Regions from separate parts of the Homo sapiens genome. Here region 2 is linked to region 1. Evidence: fine-mapped expression QTL. Tissue or cell type: whole blood. Region 1 holds a variant in brackets; the other region holds the start of a gene. All regions are shown on one strand. Distances are between the middles of the regions.

Evidence for each region. PIP is the estimated chance that this variant, and not a neighbour inherited with it, causes the effect.
Region 2: NUAK2 starts here. The variant in region 1 is fine-mapped to the expression of NUAK2 in whole blood (TOPMed, PIP 0.99).

What each region holds. Positions count from the first base shown.
Region 1 is chr1:205,291,494-205,294,179 of GRCh38, forward strand. No RefSeq gene overlaps it. Among named protein-coding and RNA genes, the nearest start is that of NUAK2, 29 kb to the right of the region's middle. RefSeq lists enhancers at 188-427, 2,424-2,686. The variant T/C (reference allele first, on the strand shown) is at 1,342.
Region 2 is chr1:205,320,513-205,323,198 of GRCh38, forward strand. NUAK2 (NUAK family kinase 2) reads right to left here and starts at 1,233. Exons shown (of 7, transcript NM_030952.3): 1 at 886-1,233. The coding sequence starts at 1,116. RefSeq lists a silencer at 740-919.

The DNA.
Region 1 (2,686 bases):
CGTGAATCTCTGGAAAACTCCACTGTACACTCATGAGAGAATGAGAGTGAAAAAGGCAAATGATGTTTCCTTATTATTAGTAAAACAGTTCTAGGCCTATAATCCAGCACTTTGGGAGGCCAGGTTGGGTGGATCACTTGAGTCCAGGAGTTCGAGACCAGCCTCGAGGGCAACATAGTAAGGCCCTGTCTCTACAAAAAGTACAAAAAATTAGCCAGGGGTGGTGGCACGTGCCTGTGGTCTCACCTGAGCCCAGGAAGTCAAGGCTGCAGTGAGCCATGATCACACCACGGCACTCCAGCCTGGGTGACAGAGCGAGACCCTGTCTCATAACACCACCACCACCAACAACAAACCCCACTTCTGACTGTGTGTACCTTCTGAAAAGATTTGGGGAGCCCCCAGGGGTTCCCCCAGGGGTTCCTGGACCACACTTGGAGAACCAGTGCTCTAGCACAATGCCAGAGACTTCAGTGGTGATCGGTATCTACTCCTTTGCCCCGCAAGTTAATTTGGGATGGGGGATGATGTGACACCACACACATAATTTAATGTAATTCCAAGCTGTTCTTTTTTCTGAGATGAGTGGTGCAGATGTGGGGAATCTTGGGGCTAGAGAGACTGCCCCAAAAGGCCTGGGTATGGGACTCAGTTGTGAGGTGGACCAAGCTGACTTAGCTGTGAAGGACAGAACTGCAGTTCTGTGTTCCTGGAGCCTTAAAGAGGCATCTAAAGAAAGTCAACCCTGCTAGGCGGAAAGACAGAATGGGTGAGCCTGGTGGGAGGCCAGGGTCAAGGAGCCAGCCGTGTGCTGCCCACCCCACCCCCAACCATGACTGGCGAGGGAGGGAGTTGACCAACTCCACTCCTCACCCCTACCTGGCATCTGTCTGCCTATTCTTTTTTTTCCCCCTTTTTGTGGAGAATGGGGTCTTGAGATATTGACCAGGCAGGTTTTGAACTCCTGGGCTCAAGCTACCTTCCGCCTCTGCCTCCCTAAGTGCTGGGATTACAGGTGTGAGCCACCACGCCCAGTCTGTCTGCCCATTCTGACCCTCGTGGGCATTTCCAGCAAGGGCTGGGACAGCAAGGCTAACATTGCTTATGAGGAATGACTTGGGCTCTCAAATATCTGCTCTACTAACTCTGCCCCTGGGCCCAGGCGTGCAGAGCCCCACAGCTGGGGGGCTTATTCCTTGACTGACCAATCCAGTGACGCAAGAGTGGGGACCGAAAACAGCCAGTTTTCAGTGTAGCCACGTCAACACAAGCAGTCCCATGACAACCAGCTCCAGTGGAACTGGGGCGTCTTACTACACACACCCTTGGCACACTCACCTC[T/C]GTGCTGTTTTTTTTTTTTTTCTTTTTGAGATGGAGTTTTTGCTCATGTTGCCTAGGGTGGAGGGCAATGGTGCGATCTCGGCTTACCTCAACCTCTGCCTCCCGGGTTCAAGCAATTCTCCTGCCTCAGCCTCTCGAGTAGCTGGGATTACAGGCATGTGCCTGGCTAATTTTGTATTTTTAGTAGAGACGGGGTTTCTCCGTGTTGGTCAGGCTGGTCTCGAACTCTCGACCTCAGGTGATCCGCCCGCCTTGGCCTCCCAAAGTGCTAGGATTATAGGCGTGAGCCACAGTGCCCAGCCACCTCTGTGCTGTTAACATCCATCCTGTAGGTGTTAGTTTATGGCCCCAACTTTATTATAAGTAAATTCCTTGAAGGAGGGGACGTGCCTCAATTGCTTCTGTATTTTCCATGGCACCTAGAACAATAGTAAGGTCTTAATAAATGTTGATGTGTTTATTAGGGAATGGGTTTTCACTTGATTTAACTATCAAGTTCCCCTTTATAAGGGGCTGGGGCCAGGAAAGCGGGTGGAGGCCCTTTATTAAACATTTATTGAGTACCTGTTCTCACTCCTTAGGTTTTCTCCAGTGATGTATTGCTTAAAAAGCATGTTCATGTGTTGTCTCATTTAATCCTTGCAGTAATGTGATGGGTGTGAGCTGACTGTGAAAGTGACTCTCTAAGTCATTGCAATGCACTCTGTGGGAAGAATGTGCTAGCCCAGCAAGGCTGTCTTTGTGATGTCCGATGTGTACGTGCGTGGGGAGGCGCTCCCAAAAGCTGCGCTGGGGCAGGGTGTCCTGAACGGCGTTACCAGATGTATCTTGACAAAGAGGTTGGCACCACCATGAAGACCAATTCAACCAGCTCTCCTAGCCCAGCTTCCATGCTCTTCAAGGAGACTTCCCACTGAACTTCCGAATACCCTTGTGTGAAACTGCCACAGGCAGTGAATGTGCTCATCAGCAAACCCAAGTATCTGGTTGGTTTGACAGGGGTTTTGTTATTCATTAGAAATGAATGAATTGGCATGTTGGCTGAATCCATTCCTCTCCTAGAGCTCAGTGAGTCTGCTCCTGAGCCTCCTAGCCTGTTGATAAGCAAGGTTTCTGAGCAGCAAAGTGAGGCTGCTCACTTTGGCAAACAGGTCTTCAGGTGAGCCCGGCCACCATGTGAGGCCCTGTTGGCAGGCCAGGCTCTCCCCAGGCCCCACCTGGCCTCACCAATGGCTCTTGGATTCACAGAGGACTGCACATTGGACTGGGAGACAGGGCAAGCCAGGGGTCCCTTAGCAGAGAAGGGATCCCTGCCAGTAACTAGCCTGCTGTGAGTATGAAGTTG
Region 2 (2,686 bases), 29 kb after region 1:
CTCGGCCTCCCACAGTGCTGGGATTACAGGCGTGAGCCACCGCGCCCGGCTATCTCACCGCAAGTTCTATGTGTTAGGAGCAATATAAGTTCATATTTCGATCTTATTCAATCCTCACAGCAGCTTGTGAGGCAGGCTGTGTTTTCTACAGTTCTGCAAAAGGGGAAACAAAGTACAGAGATGAAGGAAATTGCCCAAGGTCACACAGACTGCTAGACTCCTACGCTCGCACCAAAGTAACAGGGCATGTTCTTGAAAAGGCCCCCAAACCGAAAGGTGTCTCTGGTACAGTGGACCTGGTTTCACATTTTCCAGAATCAAAAACTCATCATAATGAAATTTCAACTAAATTTTAGAGCTGGAAAGGACCTAAATGTCAAAACCCACCCCGTGCCAGAGCTCCAGTGTGCTGGGTTGCCAGATTCTTGGAGTTGGGGAAATCCACACCTCATCCATTCATTCAACCACACACATATTTACCAAATACCTATTAAGATGGGGTGCCTTCTACTTCCTCTTTCCATTGCACTCTATTGAACAGTCTTTTCCCAGCAAAACTCAACTTAAGTCCCATCCATCTTATCCCAGGACACGACACGATTCGTTTTTCCGCGCCAACTATCCATAGCCTCCCTTTTATTTGGCAATCATCACAGCAGTACGGTGTTGCTGGCTGGGGTTCGCAAGTTTGCGACCACTGTCCCTGCAATCACGGACTGACACATCTGCCAGGGACACCCCGCAGTAGCCCCGCAAGCTCAGCGCGGTAAAGACCACGCTGGCCTCTCCGCCGAGCAACGAGCGAGCCGCCGCCCGCCCTCCTCCGCTCCCTGCCGGCGGCCAAGCCGGAGCCCGCCCCGCGCCGCGAGAGGGAGCCGCACTCACCAGGCGCCCCGAGCTCTCCCGCGCCTTCTTCACCTTCCCGTAGGTGCCTTTGCCCAGGGTCTCCAGGAACTCGTAGCGGTGCCGCAGGTTGTGCTTGTGGTGGTGCCGCTTCACCGCCTGCTTCTTCATTAGGGGCTTGGGCGACTTGATCAGCCCTTCCGCCAGCGGCCGGGCTAGCTCTGCGGCCGAGGGAGTGGGGCCGGAGCGCCGCGCGAAAACCAGCGACTCCATGGCGAGCAGGAGGTGAGCAAGGGCGGCAGGGGAATCAGTAGGCTGTGCGGGGAGGGCTGAAGCGCGGGGCACAGGTCCCGCACCAGGACGGGGAGCCACAGCAGTACCAGAGCGCGCAGTAAAGCACAGCATTCCAAGTTGTTATAAACGCCCTGAGCCCGAGGCCCTGGACACGCCCCCCGGCGCCCATTGGCCTGCTCGACGGCGGCGCGTGACCACGGCCGTCCACATTGGCTCTCCGGGGCTCCAGGCCCCGCCTCCTCCCCCTCGGCGTGGCCGGGAAAGGTGTCAATGGAACCCGCCCACCAGGAATGGGGACTAGGGGATTCCAGCGAAGGCCGCCTGAGGCCCAGAAGCTTACTCTGAGGGCCCTTGGAGCTGCACTTGCCTCTGAGTGGCGCTTGGTCCTGCTTAATGCCCTGTTGTTTTATTGTACTCTGTTCTCAGTTGGCAAGGGGCGATCTGAGGGCACTAAAGGTCACCAAAGTATTTCTTCATCCTGAGTAATTTGCTTGTCCCAAGCCAAAATCTATAATTGCTTGACCACTTCATTGAGTCCATAAAGGAGAAAGGGAGCTGGGATGGAACAGAGGCAGAATCCAGCCTAGTGGGAGGGTTAGTGCAGAGCTGTCCTATGGTTCGAGTTCACTTGTCTTCAGTTAGATCAACCTTACTTGGATATTGGAATCCAATGGCCCTGGAAACTTCTTCCTTCTTCCTCAAAGAGGGCTTCTTAGGCGAATCGCTTGAGGTCCAGGAGTTCAAGACCAACCTAGCCAACATGACGAAATCCCATCTCCACTAAAGATACAAAATTAGCCGGGCGTGGTGGTGCGCGCTTGTAATCCCAGCTACTCTGGAGGCTGAGGCAGAAGAATCGCTTGAACCCAGGAGGCAGAGGTTTCAGTGAATCAAGATGGCGCCACTGCACTCCAGCCTGGGCAACAAAGTGAGGCTCCGTTTCAAAAAAAAAGAGGGCTTCTAAGGTTTAGTAGATTCCCTCAACCACTTAGTGGAATTTATTTAGGATGTGTCGGCTGGAGGTGGAGAGAACCCGAAGGGATACATATTTATTTAACATTTTTACATGCCGACTATCTAACCTGTGTCCCTAAGTCTGAAAATGGTTGCTCCACCCAAGGTTTTCTTGTGATTTTGGTGCCAGGAGCACTGGTGGTAGGTTATGAGGTTTGACTTGAGACGGAGTCTCCCTCTGTCGCCCAGGCTGGAGTGCAGTGGTGCGATCTCTGCTCACTGCAAGCTCCGCCTCCCGGGTTCACGCCATTCTCCTGCCTCAGCCTCTCCGAGTAGCTGGGACTACAGGCGCCCGCCACCACGCCCGGCTAATTTTTTGTATTTTTAGTAGAGACAGGGTTTCACCATGGTCTTGATCTCCTGACCTCGTGATCCGCCCGCCTCGGCCTCCCAAAGTACTGGGATTACAAGCGTGAGCCACTGCGCCCAGCTTGACTTAGTTTTTGAGGCCTGGAGTTGCTAGGTCCAGAATCTCCACTCTGAGTGCTCATTTACAGTGAAATGAGAATGGCCATAGGTTTTCCTTCTTGCTTTA